7 linked regions of the Homo sapiens genome follow. The protein of the gene in region 1 purifies or fractionates together with the protein of each later gene. This does not show direct contact. Each region holds a gene or a part of one and is shown on either strand. Other genes may lie near its edges. The genes, in order: SSX2, SMARCA5, AMD1, CUL7, GSTA1, KIF3A and SESTD1.

Region 1 (3,500 bases):
AACATTGAATAAGCTAATGCATGTGAAGACCCTTTGTAAGCTCAAAAGCACTATAGATATGTCACTGATACTATTTATCTGTGATCTTCACATTATAAAGATCATGCCCAAGAAGCCAGCAGAGGAAGGAAATGATTCGGAGGAAGTGCCAGAAGCATCTGGCCCACAAAATGATGGGAAAGAGCTGTGCCCCCCGGGAAAACCAACTACCTCTGAGAAGATTCACGAGAGATCTGGTAAGAGGAAGCAATTCAGGAACAATCCCTCTGGCTTCCCTGGCGATGTTCAGGTATATGGACTGGGTGTGTGGCATGGATCCCAGATAACCCTGGGTCCAGACTGGGCTGAGGAGCTCGCCCAGCTCCAGATGAGATGTTAGACATGACTTCCAGAGATAGACTTGATTTGTCACCCATAGAAAAAACCATGTGACTTGGGGCAAGTCTTTCAGATTTTCTCAGCTCCAGATTCCTAGTCCGTAAGATGGAAATAAGGAATCATAGTTCATAAATTGTTTGGAGACATTAAATTTAATCTAGAAGGCCTGATGACATGAAAGGTGCTCAAGCAATTCTATCTGTGATTACCTGGGATCATTACCTGATTAAGACTCAGCTCAATGCCATGCCTGTTACCCAATACAGGTGTACTTCAGAGATACTGCAGGTTCAGTTCCAGACCACTGCAATAAAGTGAGTCACACACGTTGTTTTTTGGTTTGGCAGCGCATAAAAACATTATGTTTATACTATAGTGTAGTCTACTAAGTGTGCGATAGCGTTGTGTCTAAAAATGTATATACCTTAATTTAAAAATAATTCTTTGTTAAAAATGCTAACAATCTTCTGAGCCTTCAGTGAGTCACACTCTTTTTGCTGGTGGAGGGTCTTGCCTCGGTGTTGATGGCTGCTGGCTGATCAAGGTGGTGGTTGCTGAAGGGTGGAGTGGCTGTGGCAGTTTCTTAAAAGAACACAACAGTGAAATTTGCCACATCGATTAGCTCTCCGTTTCATGAAGGATTTCTCTGTAGTATGTGATGCTATTGGATAGCATTTTACCCACAGTAGAACTTCTTTCAAAGTTGAAATCAATCCTCTCTAGCTATGAAAGTCCTAGAAGGCATCTCCTTCCAATAGAAGGCTATTTTATCTACATTGAAAATCTGTTGTTTCATGTAGCCACCTTCAACAGTGATCTTAGCTAGATCTTCTGGATAACTTGCTGCAGCTTCTCCATCAGGGTTTGCTGCTTCACCTTGCACTTTTATGTTATGGAAACGGCTTCATTCCTTAAACCTCATGAACCAACCTCTGCTAGCTTCACATGTTTCTCCTGCAGCTTCTTCACCTCTCTCAGCATTCATGGACTTGAAGAGAGTTCTGGTCTTGCTCTGAATTAGACTTTGGCTTAAGGGAATGTTGTGACTGGTTTCGTCTTCTATCCTGACCACTCAGACTTCCTCTATTTGAGCAGTAAGGCAGTTTTGCTTTCTTATTCGTGTGTTCACTGGAGTATTAGTATTATTATTTCCTTCAAGAACTTTTCCTTTGCATTCACAGCTTGGCTGTTTGGCGCAATAGGCCTAGCTTTCAGCCTGTCTTGGCTTTCAGCATGCTTCCTCACTAAGCTTAGCCATTTCTAGCTTGTGATTTAGAGTGAGAGACATGCGACTCTTCCTTTCATTTGAACACTTAGCGGCCATTGTAAGGTTGTTAATAATCCTCATTTCAGTATTGCTGTGTCTCAGGAAATAGGGAGGCCCAAGAAAAGGAAGAGAGACGCGGAACAGCTCATCGGTGGAGCAGTCAGAACACACACAACATTGGTCGATTCAGTTTGTCAACTTCTATGGGTGCAGTTCATGGTACCCCCAAAACAATTACACACAACAGGGTGATTATAGTCAATAATAACTTAATTGTACATTAAAAAAAAAACTAAAAGTGTAAATGGATTGTTTGTAACACAAGGATAAATGCTTGAGGATGGATACCCTATTTTCCATGATGTGATTATTACCCATTGCATGCCTGTATCAAAGCATCTCATGTACCCCATAAGAATATACACCTGCTGCGTACCCACAAAATAAAGAACAAAAATTATTTTAAAACACTAAAAAACAATAAAATCAATTGCAGTAATAATATCAAAGCTCACCGATCACAGATCACTATAGCAGATATAATAATAATGGAAAAGTGTAAAATTGGTGAGAATTAAAAAAAAAAATTGCAGCATCTGCGAAGCAGTATGAACATGAGGTGCAACAAAACAAGGTACGCCTGTGTGGCCTTAACAAATACGTGCTGGATGAAAGGAGGTATGGGGGAATGTTCCCGTAAGTGAAGAGGTTGGGAATCTAAGCCTGAGAAGGGAAGGAGCCAGAAGCTAAAACTTTAATTGGCATTTGGCCTATGTTGGTGTGGATCTAAGGTCTCAGCCTCTCTAAGCCAGAGAATGTGAAAAACTGGATGAAGAAGGCCCATGGGCACTTGGGAGGAAGCAGGCATCTCCTTTTTTTGAGTAAACAGAGCCTAACACTCTCCAACCTACCCAACCCTCACTTTCCAACTATTCTCCATCACAGGACCCAAAAGGGGGGAACATGCCTGGACCCACAGACTGCGTGAGAGAAAACAGCTGGTGATTTATGAAGAGATCAGCGACCCTGAGGAAGATGACGAGTAACTCCGTAAGAGAACCTTCCACTCATCCCCCACATCCCTGCAGACGTGCTATTCTGTTATGATACTGGTATCCCATCTGTCACTTGCTCCCCAAATCATTCCCTTCTTACAATTTTCTACTGTACAGCATTGAGGCTGAACGATGAGAGATTTCCCATGCTCTTTCTACTCCCTGCCCTGTATATATCCGGGGATCCTCCCTACCCAGGATGCTGTGGGGTCCCAAACCCCAAGTAAGCCCTGATATGCGGGCCACACCTTTCTCTAGCCTAGGAATTGATAACCCAGGCGAGGAAGTCACTGTGGCATGAACAGATGGTTCACTTCGAGGAACCGTGGAAGGCGTGTGCAGGTCCTGAGATAGGGCAGAATCGGAGTGTGCAGGGTCTGCAGGTCAGGAGGAGTTGAGATTGCGTTGCCACGTGGTGGGAACTCACTGCCACTTATTTCCTTCTCTCTTCTTGCCTCAGCCTCAGGGATACGACACATGCCCATGATGAGAAGCAGAACGTGGTGACCTTTCACGAACATGGGCATGGCTGCGGACCCCTCGTCATCAGGTGCATAGCAAGTGAAAGCAAGTGTTCACAACAGTGAAAAGTTGAGCGTCATTTTTCTTAGTGTGCCAAGAGTTCGATGTTAGCGTTTACGTTGTATTTTCTTACACTGTGTCATTCTGTTAGATACTAACATTTTCATTGATGAGCAAGACATACTTAATGCATATTTTGGTTTGTGTATCCATGCACCTACCTTAGAAAACAAGTATTGTCGGTTACCTCTGCATGGAACAGCATTACCCTCCTCTCT
Region 2 (3,500 bases), on another chromosome or scaffold:
GGAACTCATTTTTGACAAAGCTACCAAGAACATACACTGGAGAAAGGACAGTCTCTTCAATAAATGGTAATGGGAAAATTGGATATCCATACACAGAAGAATGAAACTTGACCTGTATCCCTAACTATATAAAAAAATCAAATCAAAATGTATTAAAGACTTTAAGTCCTCAAACTGTGAAACTACAAGAAAACATTGGGAAAACTCTCCAGAACACTGGACTGGGCAAAGATTTCTTGAATAATACCCCACAGGCAACCAAAGCAAAAATGGACAAATGGGATCACATTAAGTTAAAAAGCTTCTGCACAGCAGAGGAAACAGCAAAGTGAAGAGACATCCCACAGAATGGAAGAAAATATTTGCAAACTACCCATTTGTCAAAGGATTAATAAATAACCAGAATATGTAAGAGCTCAAACAACTCTACTGAAAAAAATCCTAACAGTCCGATTTAAAAATAGGCAAAAGATCTGAACAGATGATTCTCAAAGGAAGACATACAAATGGCAAACAAGCATATTAAAAGCTGTTCAGTATCACTGATCATCAGAGAAATGCAATCAAAACTACAATGAGATAACATCTCATCCCAGATAAAATGGCTTTTATCCAAAAGTCAGGCAATAACAAATCCTGACAAGAATGTGGAGAAAAGGAAACCCTCATACACTTTTGGTGGGAACGCAAATTAGTACAATCACTGTGGAAGCAGTTTGAAGGTTCCTCAAAAAACTACAGATAAGAGTTACCCTACTCCTAGGTTTACACCCAAAAGAAAGTCAGTATATCAAAGAGATATGTGCACTCCCATGTTTACTGCAGCACTATTCACAGTAGCCATGATTTGGAAGCAACCTAAGTGTCCATCAACAGATAAATGGATAAAGAAAACATGGTATGTATACACAATAGAATACTATTCAACCATAAGCAATGAGACCCTGTAATTTGCAGCAACATGGATGGAACTGGAGTTTATTAAGTGAAATAAGCCAGACACAGAAAGACAAACTTGGCATGTTCTCACTTATTTGTGGGAGCTAAAAACTACAATTAAACTCATGGAGACAGAGAGAAGGATGGATACCAGAGGCTGAGAAAGGCAGTGGGGGTGGGGGAAAGTGGGGCTGGCTAATGGATACAAATAAATACAAAGAGAGACTAAGACCCAGTATTTGATAGCCCAACACAGTGACTACCGCAATAAATAATTTAATTATACATTTTAAAATAACTAAGAGTTAAACTGTTTGTAACAGGGATAAATGCTGGAGGTGATAAATACCCCATTTACCCTGATGTCCTTATTACTTATTGCATGCCTGTATCAAAGTATCTCATGTAACCTATAAATACATACTTACTCATAACAACTAAAAATTAAAAATTATACCACTACCTAAATTTGAAAGTGGAAGAATCTCAAATTATGAGCTTGGGTTCTCCCTTAAGGAAAAAAAAAAAAAAAAAAAAGTAAAGGCAATGGAGGGGTGCACAACAGGGACTAACACATCAATGACAGCCAAGCAGTGTTAAATACTTAGAAAGGGGAAATTTACATAATCCACATATTTACATATTCATGAATACTTACTGAAGGCTTTGGTCCTCGTTTCTTTTTCTCTGCCTTCTCCTTTTCTTCTAGTTCCATGTTTTCTCTTTCAATCAAAGTAATTAAGGTATTACATCTCCTCTGGAGCTCCTAAATTATAAACAAACATGGTACACGCACTTTCCATCCACAAGTTTCATGATTTCAATTTTAAAACAAGGTATGTTTTAATAGGATAATATATAAAACCACTAATACACCCCTGATTTAAAAAAAAAACAACTGATTTTCATATACAATTCATGCTATGAAGATTAAAGGCAAGATATTTGTAAATAATGTTTTTACTCCAATCTTTAAAGCCAAACTACTGTGTATTCTTCAAAAATTCTTCCTTCACTTAGGAATTAAAGCAATAAAAATGAACATATGCAATACTGCTACTTAGTGTGTATGTCTGAGAACTACTGTGCTACTTATATCCAAAACTTAAAAAGATTAATAGTGCACATATGTGAGGGTCAAAAACAACAAGAACTTTAACAGGTGTGTATAATCTTTCCCTTCAAAGTATCACTAGAATTATGGTAGTCAATCAATCACATGGCACCTTTCCCAATTTTGGAAAACCAGCCATGGAAGTCTACGATGAGTTCTACCTCATCTCTCTCTGGCAAACTGGACATACAGCCTCCAGAAAAGATTTAAAGTATAACATAGAAGTAGCAGTTAACCCTGAAAGAAACAGAAGTCCATCTGCACGGACGGCTGCTGGGTAGCAGCCCCCTTTCTTATAGAGCAAAATTATTTTTTTCTTATAGTAAGTGATACTACTACACACACAACTACAGTAAAATAATTTTAAAATACTACTGTATAGAATACACCACACAAGACTTAGAAATAGTATATAGAGATAGAAGAATACATTATCATTTTTTGTGCATCTTAACATGGAACATGTTAAGAAGTAACACAGTTTTAAATTACGGTACTGTACTAGTTAAATTAACATGGCACTGTCTTGTTACAATCACTATAAAATTATTCTTTATTAACTCTATAAATTGTTCCCACTTAAGAAGAAATAAGCTTTCAGCAACTGGATCTTTTCTCTAATTATATATTTATACAGTGTTTTATCTTCAAAGTATCTTCATGTATTTAAGTTTAGTACATTTCCCAAACTTGGGTATCACAAACAGTGATGTCTAGTGAAAAAAAATTTTCAGTGGTCAAACATGAAAATACTGCTTACTATCCACTGTCTTACAAAGTGACATTTTACTTTAAATATACAGAGAAATCTTACTATAAACAAACACAAAGATGTTTAAACTTTGCTTATCCCAGAATATCCCAAACTTAAGACTAAAGAACTTATTAGCATTATCCTCATCTGGCAGAAAACAAGTTGAAGCTCAAAGTTCAATGGTGGTGAAATAAGGAAGAAAAGGAGCAATCCATCAAAGTTAAACTTTTCTGAATTCAAATTTTAGGTTATTAGAAATGGGGCTATTTGGTCAGAAACTGTTAGTCAGATATTGGGAATAAAAACAAAACCTAGCACTAAATCAGTGCAAAAGTAGTGTTTCACTATAATAAGCCATCTTAAAATAATCCAGACTCTGGATGATTTATATTAAATAAATCAGAATGCTGATTCTGATGTGCAGATGCTTGAATGCAAGGACCATTTTTCTTTATAGAAATATGTTCATTTGAAAAACCAAAAAGTCGTAACACTCAGAAGTTGAAACTGATACTTCCTCCCACTTAGAACTTGAAAAGCTAGTCTTATCATATAGTGATATTTAAAGACGTAAGATACTAAAGGATAGGACCAATAAACTTGTAAGCTATCCCTGGTATTAGGTTTTATGATACTAACAATATTGTAACAAAAGTCTACTTCATAGATTTTTTTAAAGTCACCTTAAAGAAT
Region 3 (3,500 bases), on another chromosome or scaffold:
TGTTTAAAAGTCTTAATAGAAATGGTGAATATAACTGAGAAAGGGAGGGTGGGATTTGTTAGTGCGTCCAGTGGGTAAAAAGGAGTATGTGCAAGAATAAGTTATAGTGGGAAGTCAGTAGGTGATGACTTAAGCAGGTAGCATTATTGATGGACCTGAATTAGATAAGCTCTTTAAAAATCTGAAATTGTAATGTTTCTAATACTTAAATCATAGTGGATATTTTTATTTACCTTCATATTCAGGAATGGGAGTCTTAATAGTAGATAATTTTTGCAAGGATTTTGTAAATTTATCTTAGTCAAGTGAAGCAGGATTTCATTCCCACGAGTAGTTTGTTTATTTTTTTGAGATGGAGATTCACTTTTGTCGCCCAGGCTGGAATGCAGTGGTGCGATCTCGGCTCACTGCAATCTCCATCTCCCGCATTCAGTCTCCTGCCTCAGCCTCCAGAGTAGCTGGGATTATAGACGCCCACCACTACGCCCAGCTAATTTTTTGTGTTTTTAGTAGAGATGGGGTTTCACCATGTTGGCCAGGCTGGTCTCAAACTCCTGACCTCAGGTGATCCATGCGCCTCGGCTGCCCAAAGTGGTGGGATTACAGGCATGAGCCATTGTGCCTGGCCAAGTTTTTGTTGTTTTTGTTTTGTTTGTTTGTTTTTGAGACGGAGTCTCCCTCTGTTGCCCAGGCTGGTATGCAGTGGCAAGATCTCAGCTCACTGCAACCTCCACCTTCAGGGTTCAAGTGATTCTTCTGTCTCAGCCTCCCGAGTAGCTGGGATTACAGGCGTGTGCCACCACACAAGCCAGGGGTAATTTCAAGGGTTGTCACAGTATATATCCCACATATGTATTCTTTCCATATATGAACAAATTGTTAGCACCCTTTTTAAAGAACCTTAAAACTTTTTAGTAGCTCTTTTAAAAAAGTTGCTTAGTCATGTTATAGTCTAATACAGGAACTCAGCTCTGTAATCATTAGCAAGCCTTTCACATTAAAGATTTTTGGATGGGTATTGGTACGCAGATGGGTCAGTAACAGTTTCTTGTAGCAAAATGGTGAGACAGGCACAAAATTCTACCAGGCATGTTTGGTGTTGTGTTTGCTTTTTAATACAAACGAATAAAAACATTTTGCTGTTGGATTTCGCTCAAAAGGTCTTATCTGGTTAACAAAAGATTTGCCGGCTGGGCACGGTGGCTCATGCCTGTAATCCCAGCACTTTGGGAGGCCGAGGCAGGCGGATCACCTGAGGTCAGTAGTATGAGACCAGCCTGGCCAACATGGTGAAACCCTGTCGCCACTAAAAATACAAAAATTAGCCAGGTGTGGTGGCACGTGCCTGTAATCCCAGCTGCTTGGGAGGTGGAGGTTGCAGTGAGCAGAGATCATGCCACTGGACTCCAGCCTGGGTGACAGAGCAAGACTCAGTCTCAAAAAAAAAAAAAAAAAGATTTGCCATTTTTATGAGTGTAGAGCAATGGCCTGTCAGATATCATAAGGCTTAAAAATTTTTCTTCTTTTTTTAAAGACCAGGGTATTACTCTATCGCCCAGCCTGGTCTCAAACTCCTGAGCTTAAGCCATCCCAATCCCAAAGTGCTAGGATTACAGGCGATTCTCCTGCCTCAGCCTCAGCCTCCTGAGTAGCTGAGATTATAAGCACCTGCCACCACGCCCGGCTAATTTTTGTATTTTTAGTAGAAACAGGGTTTCACCATGTTGGTCAGGCTGGTCTCAAACTCCTGACCTCAAGTGATCCACCGCCTTGGCCTCCCAAAGTGCTGGGATTACAGGCGTGAACCACCACGCCTGGCCTAAAAAATATTTCTGGCAAACAGCTGGGCATGGTGGCACATGCCTGTGGTTCTAGCTACCTGAGAGACTAAGGCAAGAGAATTGCTTGAGCCTGGGAGGTCAAGGCCGAAGTGAGCTGTGATTGCACCACTGCACTTCAACCTGGGCGACAGAGTGAGACCCTGTCTCAAAAAATAATATCTGTCATGTTAAGCTGTTCCATGGAATTACATTGTCTTTTTATAATGGGCACACTAATGAAAGAATGAACACTTTCCTAATTCTATTCTCAGGCAAATTAAGACTAGTTTCTTCATGTCCATATGACCTTCATTGCTATGGTTGCTTGTACTGCACATTTCCTGTTAAACGGGCTTTCTCATTGCATTTGGAGAGCTGCGTAGTATTCCCAAAATCTTCTAGGTATGCTTGTAATTGGCAGTCATTCCAGTTTTTTGTGAGTGCTATAAGAGTAACATCACTCACTGTGTCCCGACAGACAGGCTTTTAAATTTCTATGCCAATTAGATTGGTAAAATTATGCTCTTCTTTTTTTTTAAGTGTTTCTTAAGGTTAAAAATCTGCACATTTTATAGACAAAGTATCCCATTGAATTTCTGTAATCATTGATTAGTTAATGGTTTACCTTGGTTTATGGACCTTTGAACATTTTTTTGCCTATTTTTCTTTAAGTAATTTGTAAATACATAGTATAATGACCAATTTTTGTTTCATATATAGCATAATATACCTATCATTTATCTGGGTGTGTCAATATAGATTATTTTGAAAGAAACTAAAAGTTGGTGTACAATATTAATTAAAAATGTGGTCTTCATGAGAAAAAGTGTGAGCTTTGTAATTTTTATGAGTAGGTGGGTACTATTGTGGATTAATCGTAACTTTTTTGTTAAATGATAGATCTGAGTGGGACATACTTTTGAAGGATGTGCAATGTTCAATCATAAGTGTGACAAAAACTGACAAGCAGGAAGCTTATGTACTCAGGTAAGTCCTGTAAAACAAGTGTTAGGTAGCTAATTTCAGTCCTAATCATAATGTGAAACAGTTAAGTTCCTCTCAGTTGTAGTTCTGGGGGTTTTTTTGTTTTGTTTTGTTTTTTTGAGACGGAGTTTCAGTCACCCAGGCTGGAGTGCAATGGCGCCATGTCAGCTCACTGCAACCTCCGCCTCCTTGGTTCAAGCAATTCTCCGGCCTAAGCCTCCTGAGGAGCTGGGATTACAGGCACCTTCCATCATGCCCGGCTAATTTTTGTATTTTTAGTAGAGACGGGGTTTCACCATGTTGGCCAGGCTGGTCTTGAACTCCTGACCTCAGGTGATCCATCCACCTCGGCCTCCCAAAGTGCTGGGATTATACACGTGAGCCACCGCGCCCAGCCTTTTTTTTACATTATTCTTAAAAATATGGTATAAAAGGAAACATTTAGTGTAACGTGGATGTTTCTAGGACATAGGTTTTGAAGCCTCACCGGACAGTTCAAGGTGTTTGCCGTCTTTTCCTCCCAATTGGTAAAGAAGGACCTCTTAATTAGAAGTTCAGGCAAAGGGAAAGTTAGCTTCTCTATACAAATACAGTTGTCTAATTGGTATATAAAAGCTCATCACCTTTTTTGTAGTTGCAGAGTTAATTTATTCCATAAATACTTTTAATGCTTATAGTATATATTGTGATGGGCCT
Region 4 (3,500 bases), on another chromosome or scaffold:
TTGGAATGGTGAAAAGAGTCAGTAGTTGAGAGGGGGGCCATTCTGAGAGCTGGGAAAATCTGGGTTTAGGAGGCTGTGAAGTCAAGAAGACTCACACCTGGGAAGAAACTGATATAGCCAGACTCCTCCAAAGGTCAGGGTCAGGGAGATGGAGTGGTGGAGGCCAGAAGGAAGTGTGGGGGCATAAGCCATGAAAGACAGGGTGAGAGGAGAGACAGGCCCATCCCCCAAAGGAGAAGGCATCCTGTGTGTGTGTGTGTGTGTGTGTGTGTGTGTGTGTGTGTGTGTGTGTGTGTGTGTGTATTCTCCATATGCTGCTGTTTTGTTATGTGGAGGTTTTTCTAAAACCTGGCCAGGTGGTCACCCTGAGGGCTATAGTCCTCAGTACTGGGCCACAGCCAGTCATTTGTGAGTCCTCCCTTCCCCTTCCCTCTTTCTTTCCCTATGCTCCAGGTATTTTGGGAGTCAACAGGCCGCACCTATTGGGTGCACTGGCACATGCTGGAGATCTTGGGCTTTGAGGAAGACATTGAGGACATGGTTGAGGCTGATGAGTACCAAGGGGCAGTGGCCAGTAGAGTCCTGGGTAGAGGTGAGCTCAGGGAGGAAGCAAGGGTCAGCTCTGAGCAGAGGAATGGTGGTCCTGCTGAGTTGCTAGTGACATCCTTGTGCCCCTTGGCCCATTTTCACAGCCCTGCCTGCCTGGCGCTGGAGGCCCATGACAGAACTCTATGCTGTGCCTTATGTGCTGCCTGAGGATGAGGACACTGAGGAGTGTGAACACCTGACCCTGGCTGAGTGGTGGGAACTCCTCTTCTTCATCAAGAAGCTGGATGGACCTGACCATCAGGAGGTTCTCCAGATCCTCCAGGAGAACCTAGATGGGGAGGTAGAGCCAGCCTGGAGACACTCAGAGGTTGGAGGGCTCTATTGCAAGGGCTGGACTGTATAGAGCATTTGGAAGGCTCAGGATGAAAAGTGGAGGTCAGAGAGTGGAAGGGGCTGCAGAGGAGGGGTCTGGAATTTTCAGAGGTGGGAGGGTGAGCTGTTTGGGAGGAGCCAGCTGCCAGCTGTGAGAGGATCAGGATGGAGGGTATGTGTGCAGAGAGACCCCCACCCCTACCAAGTGCTCCCTGGGGCCTCTGGGTCGGCAGGGCTGTCTGCAGTGAGAGCTTCTCCTTGATGGCAGATTCTGGATGATGAGATCCTAGCTGAACTGGCCGTGCCCATAGAATTGGCCCAGGACTTGCTGCTGACTCTGCCACAGCGACTCAATGACAGTGCCCTCAGGGACCTGATCAACTGCCATGTCTACAAGAAGTATGGGCCTGAAGCCCTAGCAGGGAACCAAGCCTACCCATCCCTTCTAGAAGCCCAAGAAGATGTCCTCCTGCTAGACGCGCAGGCCCAGGCTAAGGACTCAGAAGATGCAGCCAAAGTGGAAGGTGGGTGCCAGACACAGCAGCTGAGCTGACACACCTTCAGGGCAGTAGCACAGGAGAGATGTCTGTGCTGATTTTTATGCAATCCTTTCTGGAAGTGATGCCACCTTAGAAGCTGCAACTTAGAGAGAAGCAACAAACGGAGAAGCAGGCATTGTGTTCCCTCAAAGAATGAAGGAGGATGTAAAGTTAGAAAATTGCAAGAGAATTTTGAAGACTTAAAAAAGCCCCCACATTTAGCTTTTTCTCTTGTACAGAAACATATTCCATGCTTTGAAATAAAGGGAAGTGCTCTCCTGTTTTCAGATGAAGCTACTTTGCTATTTTAAGAATATAAAGGCCGGGCATGGTGGCTCACGCCTGTAATCCCAGCACTTTGGAAGGCCAAGGCAGGTGGATCATGAGGTCAGGAGATCGAGATCATCCTGCCTAACATGGTGAAACCCCGTCTCTACTAAAACTACAAAAAAAAAAAAATTAGCCGGGCGTGGTGGTGGGCACCTGTAGTCCCAGCTACTGGAGGCTGAGGCAGGAGAATGGCGTGAACCCAGGAGGCGGAGGTTGCAGTGAGCCGAGATCATGCCACTGCACTCCAGCCTGGGTGACAGAGCGAGACTCCGTCTCAAAGAAAAAAAAAAAAAAAGAATATAAAATTTGTCATGAAGCTGTCTTACAATGACATTCAGAGATTAGATCCCCAAACCTAACTTTTAGGGGGATTAAAAAATTTAAAACATTTTTTAGGAGAAATTAGAGAAAAAGATTGAGAGTTATGAATCTATTTCTGAGCCTTCACATTACTAACAATGGCCAACTCCTGTGACTGTCCCCTTCCTGTAGCAAAAGAACCCCCATCTCAGAGTCCCAACACTCCCCTGCAGCGTCTGGTGGAGGGTTATGGTCCAGCTGGGAAAATCCTCCTGGATCTAGAGCAAGCCCTCAGCTCAGAGGGGACCCAGGAGAACAAGGTCAAGCCACTCCTGCTGCAGCTGCAGCGGCAGCCGCAGCCCTTCCTGGCACTGATGCAGAGCCTGGACACTCCGGAGACTAACAGGACCCTGCACCTGACTGTGCTGAGGTGAGAGCATGGTGACAGGTGGGATCTCTGAGGGCAAAGGGGGTCCATGAGGCTGGCTACACATTTCTCTGCCCCCAGAATCCTGAAGCAGCTGGTGGACTTCCCCGAGGCACTGCTGCTCCCCTGGCACGAGGCCGTGGATGCCTGCATGGCCTGCCTGCGGTCCCCAAACACTGATCGAGAGGTACCCCTGCCCTGCTCTGGGGAGAGGCTGGGGGAGAGGATAAAGGCAGCCACTGGCAAGGCACACCTGCTGGGCAAGGCTCTGGAGGGCGTGATAGAGCCTTTGAGCTCTTGGTTTGAGTTTTGCTTTTAAAATTGAATTTTATTTTTTTTAAATAGGTAATACATTCACATGGTTCACAAATCAAAACGCTCTAACAAGGTATACACTGAGAATTCTTGCTCTCACCCAAATCTCTGTTCCCCCAGGGTCCCCCACACACCCCTTACTGGTAACTACTTGTATTAATTTATGTATCTTTCCCGTGTTCCCTTATGCAAATATAAGCAAACCCAAATGTGTGATCTTGCCACTCTCTTTTTTACACAAAAGGATATGGAGATATTATTACATAAAACATTAAGAGCTTCAATAGCTCCATTTTTGGCTGGGCCTGTGGGAGAAAGGGGGATGAAGGAGGCAGAGCGCCCATCACATACCAGAGTCCCCTGCAAGAGCTACAGAGAAGTCCTGGGCACAGAAGGCTTCAGAAGGGCTCAGAGAACTAGGGTCATGGTGACAGTAGGTATTTGCAGTGTGGCTATATTTTTGGCTGTTACCTAGAATTTACTTTCTAAGGCAGGCTCATTGGGTATAATACACACACAAACCCAGTCCCTGTCAGCCCCTTCCCAGCCATCCAGGTGTCTGTGCCTGAACATCTCAAAACACAGCCCTACAACTGGTTTTTGGGACAGTAGGGCCTGGATGAAAGAACCCAGGGATGCTCTCTGCCGTTTTTGCCAACATAATCAGC
Region 5 (2,946 bases), on another chromosome or scaffold:
TCTATGGAACCCCATGGACTTTGACTGAACAGGGGCATGATGAAAGCGATCCATCAGAAAATATTCTGGCACCATATGCAGGAAGATAGGAGACCAATTGCCCAACCAGAGAATACTGTAGCGTTTCAGGGATGGGTATTTTTTAAAAGGAGAGTGATTGTGGGATGCAGAGGAAGATTTTTTAAAATGGATTTTAGAGTAAGTTGCAGACATCAGTGCAGTTCACCCGTAAACGCTTCAGCTTGCAGATTATAACATAGTGCCAGTTGGGAGTGAGAGTCAATGCTGTAAGAAAGATGAATTCAGGTTCACCCAGGTTTCCTACAGATCCCAGGGAGATAGAGCAGGGAATGAGGAGAGCAGACAAAGAGAAATGAGGACTCTGAAATAGTCTCCTCCTGGGGAAGAGTGTTGTCATGAAGGTGGAGTCACTGCCCAAGGGAGATTGGAGAGGGAGAGAGCAGAATGTAGAGCCACATCCTGAATGTGAGGGCTCCACGCTGTAGGGCCTGGGGCAGACAGAACACATGGAGGCAGGTGCTAAGCCCCTGGCCCATGTGGAAGAAGCAAGCTGCGTGGGTGGTGTAGATGCCACAGTGATGTAGAATGAGAAGAGAAAATGGGAGCCTGAGCTACAACTGAGGAGTGAGTAGAGTTACAGTTCTTACTCTCTCATTCATTCAGATAATGTGGAGAAAGCTCTGGATTTCTGCACCCATGCAGTAAGGCAACAGAGGTGGGGAAAGTCAGGGTGGAGAGGCTCCGAAAGAAGCAGGGGTCCTAGCCTGGGTGTGCATGTGTTCCTGATCTGATTCCTCCCATTCTCCAGGTCTTAAAGAGCCATGGACAAGACTACCTTGTTGGCAACAAGCTGAGCCGGGCTGACATTCATCTGGTGGAACTTCTCTACTACGTCGAGGAGCTTGACTCCAGTCTTATCTCCAGCTTCCCTCTGCTGAAGGTGACCCATTTCACAGCCCAGAGAGGCAGCCCCACATCTCCCATCTTGGGATCTTGTATCTGGGCCCTGCGACTGACCAAGTTTTGCCCCAGTCTTCTCCAGGCCTTCAGTGCCCCAAGGTCTCCAAAATGAGCTTCCAGGCTCCAATTTTGAGGAATGAAAACACTTTTGTTATGGAAAGGAAATCTGTGCTGCATGCTACCCCACAAAGAGTATTTTGCCCTTTATTATGGAAAGAACCCAGGGCCCAGCATCTCTCCCCATCCCTCTATTTCAATGTGGTTTCTGTTCCTGAGTTCTCTGTGATGTCCTTTATCCCATATGTGCCCACAATGAGCCGGTCTGAGCAGAGCCCTTTCCATCTGGTTTCCTCCCTGGGCTCCGGCTCCTGCTGTCTGACATTGTGTTCCTCTCTGCACAGCTCTCCAGAACACTGGCCCCCCACACTGTATCTCTCACTGAGAAAAGGTGGTCCCATGGTTTGTCTTTAATATTTTCTATAACTATTCCCTTCCCAAATAATTTCCCCATGTTTTCACTTCTGCTTAGAGACTCATCTGTGTTGATATCTCACAGGCACATTATTTTTTCTTGTCTTATACAAGAGTCACTAATCTATAGGATTAGTGTGTAAGGAGAAAGATAGAGATGACTGAACTGATTAAAACTTCAAGACATCTTTGGGGAAAATAAAGTGAGCTACATGTCCTTCCCCTTATCTTCATTTCTCACTGGGTGTCTGTTTCTGCCTCCATGCTTGTGCTGATGGAGCAGACTCACTTGGTCTTTGCAGGAGGGGCTCAGATTCCCTGGGTCATGTTAATGGTGGTGTCAGCCCTTGGCTTCACTCTGAGGCTGTGCTTTATGAATTACAGGCCCTGAAAACCAGAATCAGCAACCTGCCCACAGTGAAGAAGTTTCTACAGCCTGGCAGCCCAAGGAAGCCTCCCATGGATGAGAAATCTTTAGAAGAAGCAAGGAAGATTTTCAGGTTTTAATAACGCAGTCATGGAGGCCAAGAACTTGCAATACCAATGTTCTAAAGTTTTGCAACAATAAAGTACTTTACCTAAGTGTTGATTGTGCCTGTTGTGAAGCTAATGAACTCTTTCAAATTATATGCTAATTAAATAATACAACTCCTATTCGCTGACTTAGTTAAAATTGATTTGTTTTCATTAGGATCTGATGTGAATTCAGATTTCCAATCTTCTCCTAGCCAACCATTTTCCTGGAATTAAAAATTCAGTAAAAAAGGAAACTATAGATTATGTGGTTTGTTTGACTTTTCCAAGAATTGTCCCGTAACATACAATTTGTCATACAATCTATTAAAATGTCAATGTAGAAATGCACTTCTGACATTTTCAGGTATGCACAGGAGAAGAGTTACCATCCTGGATAATGGCATAAAGACATTTTCTTCTTTTCCTGGACAGTCATTTTATTTCTGATAAAAGCGTTCTTTCTTATGCATTTGCAAAACAATGATTCTGTCTGCTGTGGATTCCTCAGTTTTCTAGGAGGTGAGGAAATACTGAAGAGCAAACAGACCCACCCTCTGCTCTCAGGCCACCCTATTGTCCCTTACAGTGTGTGTGCTCCTGGCTCATCCTCACTCTGCTCCTTAAGGCTCTGTGGGGTCCCAGGCATAAGCCTTCTCTCAGTTCCTTCAGTGCCACTCAGGCCTGGCTGCCACGATACAGATGGTATATGTGAAATACAAATAACTATATGCAAAATCATTTTTCCCTGGTGTGTCACTGTGCCAGAATGCTTAGATTAGGAGTGCTTTCTAGCTCCACCCCCATACTGGTCCCATAGTGCTAATCTCTCCCAGGACACCTGGGCTTCTGCAATTTGCACTCTCCTCCTCTTAGAGGGAGCTTCCCCACAGTTGGCAGAGGTGGTTGAGGGAGCAGACAAACACACAGGCTTCCTACCTGCAGCTTCACTTTGCTCTAGTCTCTTCTCCACTTACAACC
Region 6 (3,500 bases), on another chromosome or scaffold:
AGCACAAAGAACCTGCTCATTAATATCAGGGTGGAAGTAACCACAAAGATAGTTGAGAAAAGCAGCAGACCACTACTACAGGCATTAGGTAAAAGATTTTTATTCTTATTTAACCATGCTGCATGTATACATACAATACCAATATATACAACTTGAACAAATACAATTTATACATAAAATACAATGAAAGCATGGCTTTTGAAACTGATGCAACAAACTGTAATTTGTAATTTTGGCCAGCATACAGTATTATAGTAATGCTACTGAAGTTATTCATTAAATTAGTCAGACTACAGTATAAGTTCAAAGGCACTAGAAACATCTATGTTTTCTTCTAGTATTTTTAAGAACAAAAAATAATTTAAAATAAAACAAATGTATACATTAGGAAATTGGGCAGACATTGGTGTACTTAAATGTAAACGCTACCCATTCCTTAATTCACAGCCCTGTAGGAAAGAAGACTTTCCTTAAGAGTTAAGGGGAAGGATATTAAAAACAGACTAAAAGGAAACAAACAAAACAAAAAACAACCAAAAACCATAATCATAGTTTTAAAAACATGTTACAGAGGAAGTAGCACCACCCCCTCCCCCAATAAAACCTTAAATTTTTGCTGTAAAAAGAAAAAAAAAACAACTCCCTTTCTCCAGAAAGGAAATGAAATGGCTTGTCAAATGGATTCTATTCATGGGGCAAACATGGAGATGCGACCCTTCCCTTGATTACTCATCTCATGCTTTATAAGAATCTAAACACAAATAGGAAACACGATGATAATTTTAACATCCTATTAGTATATGTAATTGTAAGGATTATTAAAGAAGATACTATAAACCAATAATTCTACCAATGCTCCTTTTAATAAATAAATATCACTTTTTAAATTAAAGGGAAAAGAGAATACCCATTCAATAACCTATTTATATATATGTGCCACTCATTTTAAATCTGCATATTTATTTCAAAAAATGAGCAAGTGTGTTCATCTATATCGTCTCACGAAATTAACACTGACCTTACAACATATTTCATTTGTGGACAAAGACACAGTAAATGTGAGGAAACTACAGAATTGCTATGACTGGAGCTAAATGAATAGCTCTGAAGTCAGTGTCCCATATTTGCATATAGATATTCAGACCAGGCTTGAGGCCAGGCGTGGTGGCTCACACCTGTAATCCCAGCACTTTGGGAGGCTGAGGCGGGCGGATCACAAAGTCAGGTGAGACCAGCCTGGCCAACATGGTGAAACCCGGTCTCTACTAAAAAAAAAATACAAAAATTAGCTGGGTGTGGTGGCGCAAACCTGTAATCCCAGCTACTCAAGAGGCTGAGGCAGGAGAATCCCTTGAACCCAGGAGGCAGAGGTTGCAGTGAGCCGAGATCGCGCCACTGCACTCCAGCCTGGGCGACAGAGTAAGACTCCGTCTCAAAAAAAAAAAAAAGATATTCAGGCCAGGCTTATGTATCAAATTTTGGTATTTCTGAGATGGATATTTAATGTCCATCTGGTATAATCAGTTTTAACATAATGCTTTTTTTAAAAAACTGCTATAGTAGGCGGGGTGTGGTGGCTCAGGCCTATAATCATGCCTGTAATCCCAGCACTTCGGGAGCCTGAGGCGGGTGGATCACTTAAGCTCTAGGAGTTCAAGACAGGCCCGGGCAACATGGCAAAACCCCATCTCTACAAAAAAATACAAAAATTAGCCGAGCATGATGGCATACAGCTGTAGTTCCAGCAACTCAGGAGGCTGAAGAGACAGAGGTTACAGTGAGCCGAGATTGTCCCACTGCACTCCAGCCTAGGTAATAGAGCCAGACTCCGTCTCCAAACAAAAAACAAACACCCCTGCTATAGTAGCCTGCTTTTAGAACTTCTCAATTGACTTTTTATAGATCGGCTTTTTATTTTGACTTTTTATAGATTTATTTTTATTATCATGGTAGGGTGGGATAGAAAAAATATCTAACATACTGGCTTAAATTTCCATGTTTTAAAGCTTGATTTAAAAGTTACTCCTTTCCTATTAACTGAATTGTTAAAGGTTAGAAACATGAACTTTTAAAAAGAAGCGTTTTTTTTAAACTGGTAAAATTAAGATTTCTTTAGAGTAATTACTAACAGAGTTAAATGTGTATCATCAAAAACATTTTATAATTACCAAAATATTCTGATCACACAAAGCTTTTACAAGACACATATTTACCTCAACTCTTCACAGTATCTAAACAATGCCCCACAGAGTTAAGTAATAAATTTCTAGCTATCTTACATACCACAAACAAATGCAGCCAGTGAAATGCAATTCTAATCACCTAGAAAATGTTCACCACACACAGGACATTCAGTATTCCAATTACAGAATGGACTTTAAATTTATGGGTACATTTTTATCGCCACCTCAAGAGTACTCCACCTTCACTCACCCCTACTCTATACACAGCTTTGTCATTTAAACTAGGATTTAACAAAACTTATTAAAATAATATTAATTTAATAAATACTAACTTATAAAGTCTCAAAATATTTTCAACCAATGTGTTTCAGGGCTGATTACATAATTTTGAAAACCACAAAACATATATTAAGTGGTTTAGGAGTAGCATAACTTTATTTTTATTTTATTTTTATTTTTTGAGGTGGAGTGTCACCCTGTCACCCAGGCTGGAGTGCAGTGATGCCATCTCAGCTCACTGCAACCTCCGCCTCCCAGGTTCAAGTGATTCTCCTGCCTCAGCCTCCCAAGTAGCTGGGATTACAGGTGTGCGCCACCACACCCAGCTAATTATTGTATTTGTACTGGAGACAGGGTTTCACCATGTTAGCCAGGCTGGTCTCGAACTCCTGACATCAAGTGATCCACGTGCCTCGGCCTCCCAAAGTGCTGGGATTACAGGCGTGAGCCACCATGCCCGGCCAGGAGTAGCATAACTTTAAAAAAATACAATAAAAGTTTCATAAGCAGCTAACAACAGAAAAAAATAATTATCTCTATTACAACTTACTTTACTATGAAATCAACATAGTTTTTATTTGTAGAGGAATATGGTCTAACTGGATTACCCAATAGAAGAAATTCAGAAAATAATATTTTATTTTTAAAATAGAAAAACAAAATAAAAAAGTGTTTTAAAGGCAAAGTATTTAAAAGATATTTTTCTTGCTTAGCTGTATTTTCTGGAAAATGGAGACTCTTCTTAACTGGGAGACATAAAGTAATTCCCACCAAAATTTAGAACTCAAAGAAAAGCATCCATAACACTTCAGAGTGAATTTTTAAAAATATACACGCAGGCAAAGATAACTGAGCAGTATTTAGCTTCTTAATTTTCCGCAACAGTAGATCCTTTATATTTACGTACAATTCAATGTTTCAAGAGAACATGAAACCAGAACTTAAGGTGTATTTGATTTGAACTCAAACTGGCAAAAAAAAGTTAGGAAAGGTTCAGATGAAACATTTTCAACTTGTTAAAAAACATGTATACTCGCA
Region 7 (3,500 bases), on another chromosome or scaffold:
GAGACAGACCGGAGAATGGCTGTAAGTGAACAAAATACACCTAAGGTTCTAGGCAGTCTACATTCTACTGGGTTTTTTTTTTTTTCTTTTCTTTTTTTTTTTTTTGAGACAGTGTCTAGCTCTCTCGCCAGCCTGGAGTGCAGTGGTGCTATCTCAGCTCACTGCAACCTCTGCCTCCCAGGTTCAAGCGATTCTCCTGCCTCAGCCTCCAGAGTAGCTGGGATTACAGGCATGCGCCACCACACCCAGCTAATTTTTGTATTTTTAGTAGAGACGGGGCTTCACCCTGTTGGCCAGGATAGTCTCCATCTCCTGACCTCGTGATCTGCCCATCTTGACCTCCCAAAGTGCTGGGATTACAGGCATGAGCCACTGTGCCCGGCCGTACATACCCGTTTTTTAGGAAGAAACATTTGGATGACTTTTTTTAAATACATGCAAATGTATTAGCCAGATTTTTTTGCTCTCCACATCCCAGAGAGACTATTTCTTTATGGCAACCTCAATCGGTAATATCAATGTCTCTAATTTCAGGTGTTAATTTCTTGAGACATACTAGTCCTCACAATGTATTTACATCCCTGGTCAGGTTGCTGGAGCCTATATTTTACAAATTCAAACCAGGAAATAATTAGCTCCACAGTGGTGATTCCTAAACCTTAACAGGCATAAGAGTCATCAGAGATGCTTGTTGAAATATATATTCCAGGGCCAACTCCAGATACTGATTTAGTAAGTCAGGAGTGAAGCTTAGACATTTTTAATAAACACCCCAAGTGGTCTAATGCTGGTAGCTCTGAAAAGTGCTATTCTAGGACTCTAATCCTTCACTGCTTTTCTCAGAATCGTTGCTATTACGTCTTCAAAGAGTTAAGCCTATTTATTTAGAGCATTTAATGATATGTAAGTACTATGAATAAGGTATTGAAATCCTTTTATATTTTAGAGCATGACAGTGATAATTTTCTGAGGTAATATTTTCTACTTTAAAATAGTCTCTGTTAACCATTATAAACTATGTAGTTTAAAAATATTCTATGCTTGTTATTGAGTTAAATCCAAACAATAACTGATAAACAAGGTAAGACAGATATTATCATCACCATTGGATATAGGAGGATTTCTCATCCTCAGCAGACTCTTGAGACTTTGGGCCAGATAAATGTCTGTCGTAAGGGCTGTCCTGCACATGGTAGGGTATTTTGCAGCATCACTGGCTTCTACTTACTGCATGCAGTGGCATCCCCATTCCTCAGTTGTGATAACCCAAAATGTTTCCAGACACTGCCACATGTTCCCTGAGTGACAAAATCACCCTCTGTTACCTACTTAATGTAATGTCAGTAAATCTACAGTGATTAATGTTTTATACCTTCAATCAATGAATGTTAATTGAGCACATACTATGTGTCATGTGTTGTTCTAGGCTTTTGCCATATAATACTGTCTTACTATATGGAATTTACATTCAAGTTGGGGAGCGGAAAGCAATATAGGTATAGATTTTAGGAAAGGCCTCTCTGAGGAGATGACATTTAATCAGAAACCTTGAAATGATGTCGAGAAGTAATCCAAACAAAGGGCAATTCAGATAGAGGACACAGCAGTAGAAACACCCCAGCACAGGAAGATGATTGAGGAACAGCAAGAATGTTGGTGTGGCTAGAGTACAGGGAGCAAAGGAGAGTCACAGAAAATAAAGTTTTAGAGGAAGTCAGGAGCCAAAACATGTAATGTCTTTTAGCCCATGAAAAGAAACTTGAAATTTATTTTAAATGTTATGTGAAGTTATTTGAAACTTTTGGACAGATAATTAATTTATGTTTTAAGCAAATCACCGGCTATTGTGTGGAAAATAGGGAACAGAGACTAGCAATGAAAATGGAAGGCGGGGGGCTGATAGATGGAGGCATTAGAAGTAATGAGAATTGATAGAAGTTGATGAGGTTGAGCCAGCAAGACTTGCTGATGAAAGAATCAGGCTTTTGGCCTTAGCAGCTACTAAGGCAGGGAGGACTGCGAGAGGAACAGGTTGGGAGGATAGTGAATCAGTGTCTTTGGTGGCAGGTTAGATTTTAGATATCTAGTAGTCATCCAGATGAAGGTGGCTAGTGGGCAGTTGGGTATCAGTATCTGGGGTTCATGGGAGGGGTCAGTGTTGATGATTAATTTGGTAATTCTTAGCCTATAGATGTATTTAGAGCCTATATTAACTTGGTAGTTCTTAGCCTATAGATATATTTAAAGCCTATATTAATTTGGTAATTCTTAGCCTATAGATCTATTTAAAGGCATGGGACTAGGTGAAGTCATCCAAACCCAGTGAGAAGAAAAGAGAGCCTCTGGAAAACTGAGCCTTGGGTCAACCTAAACTTTAAGTGCAAAAAGAGGGAGGAGAGCCAGCAAAGAAGGCTAAAAGGAGCTGTTGTGTCTCAGAAAACAAGAGAAAAGGCCATTTGAAGGAGGAGGAAGTGCTTACTTGTGCCAAATGCAGCTGTTTGTTGAGAGGTTCAATAAAATAAAGACTGAGAATTGACCATTGGATTTGTGGCAAGATGGAATTTTTTGGTGAATTTGACAATTGGTTTCAGAAGGGTGGGAAAACAAAATCCTGATTGGAATGGATTAAAAAAAGAATGAAAAATGAGAAAAGAGTAAATACAGAGAACTCCTTTAAGAAAAAAATTTTTTTTAACTGAGGTTTAATTTCAGCGTAGTAAAATGCACAAATCTTAAATGTGTATTTTATTGTTTAATAAATTACAGCTTATTTATATGCTGGTGGAAATAATCCAGTTGAGACAGAAGAACTGATGGGAGACAGAGAAGATAACTGTGAGAGCAAAGCTTTGTGTAGGCAACAGAGATAGGCTGTAATGCACAAGTGGAGTGGTTGGCCTTAGAAGAAGAGACAGGCGGCTGATTATTACAGCTCTGAGGGCAGAGCATAGGGCTGTAGAAGAACGGAGGGTTGGGGATTTGTTGGTGGGAAGATGAAAGAGTTTTCCGATTACTTCCCAGTGAATTAAGATCTTTGGCTGAGAATGAAGAAGTGAAAAGGGAATTGGAGACTGATAGTGAAAAAAACATAAATGATCATGAGAATGAGAAAGTGAATTTACTAGAGAAACATAAAAGGATTGCCAAAGACTCATTTGAGATTATTTAGTCATAACTTTAAAAAGAGATCTGTCAATCCTTTTGTAGTTTATAAGCATGATGATGGGTGCTCACACTCATCTGAGATGTGTCTCCCTCTAAGCCTTGTAACAACATCAGCACGTTACCCTTCTGATGTGAGGGAAAAGAGAGAGAGCGCTATCCACCTAGTTGTTTTTAGTCTACCCATGTTCGGCTACTCTGGTACAGGCACACATTAGGCAGAGAAAACAGATCTCAGGTTTCAACAGGTCATTCTGATGGAAGGAAAGAAAGCCAGGCAGGGGCATGGGTTATATGCTGGGAGGTGGTTATAGCCTTTGATCAAGGATGGAAGTGAG

Evidence for each region.
Region 2: the proteins of SSX2 (region 1) and SMARCA5 purify together in Homo sapiens (affinity purification with mass spectrometry, with the first as the bait; one study listed by BioGRID). This does not show direct contact.
Region 3: the proteins of SSX2 (region 1) and AMD1 purify together in Homo sapiens (affinity purification with mass spectrometry, with the first as the bait; one large-scale study listed by BioGRID). This does not show direct contact.
Region 4: the proteins of SSX2 (region 1) and CUL7 purify together in Homo sapiens (affinity purification with mass spectrometry, with the first as the bait; one large-scale study listed by BioGRID). This does not show direct contact.
Region 5: the proteins of SSX2 (region 1) and GSTA1 purify together in Homo sapiens (affinity purification with mass spectrometry, with the first as the bait; one large-scale study listed by BioGRID). This does not show direct contact.
Region 6: the proteins of SSX2 (region 1) and KIF3A purify together in Homo sapiens (affinity purification with mass spectrometry, with the first as the bait; one large-scale study listed by BioGRID). This does not show direct contact.
Region 7: the proteins of SSX2 (region 1) and SESTD1 purify together in Homo sapiens (affinity purification with mass spectrometry, with the first as the bait; one large-scale study listed by BioGRID). This does not show direct contact.

What each region holds. Positions count from the first base shown.
Region 1 is NC_000023.11:52,697,179-52,700,678, reverse strand, and holds part of SSX2 (protein SSX2), read left to right. Parts: intron 1-100; coding exon 101-236; intron 237-1,747; coding exon of another isoform or gene 1,748-1,893; intron 1,894-2,590; coding exon 2,591-2,691; 3' UTR 2,692-2,695; intron 2,696-3,160; 3' UTR 3,161-3,500.
Region 2 is NC_000004.12:143,548,202-143,551,701, reverse strand, and holds part of SMARCA5 (SWI/SNF-related matrix-associated actin-dependent regulator of chromatin subfamily A member 5), read right to left. Parts: intron 1,706-3,500; coding exon 1,598-1,705; intron 1-1,597. UniProt on the Homo sapiens protein: ATPase that possesses intrinsic ATP-dependent nucleosome-remodeling activity.
Region 3 is NC_000006.12:110,884,785-110,888,284, forward strand, and holds part of AMD1 (S-adenosylmethionine decarboxylase proenzyme), read left to right. Parts: intron 1-2,720; coding exon 2,721-2,807; intron 2,808-3,500.
Region 4 is NC_000006.12:43,047,352-43,050,851, reverse strand, and holds part of CUL7 (cullin-7), read left to right. Parts: intron 1-453; coding exon 454-592; intron 593-692; coding exon 693-889; coding exon of another isoform or gene 890-916; intron 917-1,189; coding exon 1,190-1,445; intron 1,446-2,282; coding exon 2,283-2,520; intron 2,521-2,598; coding exon 2,599-2,704; intron 2,705-2,862; exon of another isoform or gene 2,863-2,875; coding exon of another isoform or gene 2,876-2,905; intron 2,906-3,500. UniProt on the Homo sapiens protein: Core component of the 3M and Cul7-RING(FBXW8) complexes, which mediate the ubiquitination and subsequent proteasomal degradation of target proteins. Core component of the 3M complex, a complex required to regulate microtubule dynamics and genome integrity.
Region 5 is NC_000006.12:52,790,871-52,793,816, reverse strand, and holds the end of GSTA1 (glutathione S-transferase A1), read left to right. Parts: intron 1-829; coding exon 830-961; coding exon of another isoform or gene 962-1,093; exon of another isoform or gene 1,094-1,769; intron 1,770-1,836; coding exon 1,837-1,959; 3' UTR 1,960-2,446; downstream 2,447-2,946. UniProt on the Homo sapiens protein: Glutathione S-transferase that catalyzes the nucleophilic attack of the sulfur atom of glutathione on the electrophilic groups of a wide range of exogenous and endogenous compounds.
Region 6 is NC_000005.10:132,692,547-132,696,046, forward strand, and holds the end of KIF3A (kinesin-like protein KIF3A), read right to left. Parts: 3' UTR 85-3,500; downstream 1-84. UniProt on the Homo sapiens protein: Microtubule-based anterograde translocator for membranous organelles. Plus end-directed microtubule sliding activity in vitro. Plays a role in primary cilia formation. Plays a role in centriole cohesion and subdistal appendage organization and function.
Region 7 is NC_000002.12:179,125,333-179,128,832, reverse strand, and holds part of SESTD1 (SEC14 domain and spectrin repeat-containing protein 1), read left to right. Parts: intron 1-3,195; exon of another isoform or gene 3,196-3,297; intron 3,298-3,500. UniProt on the Homo sapiens protein: May act as the primary docking protein directing membrane turnover and assembly of the transient receptor potential channels TRPC4 and TRPC5.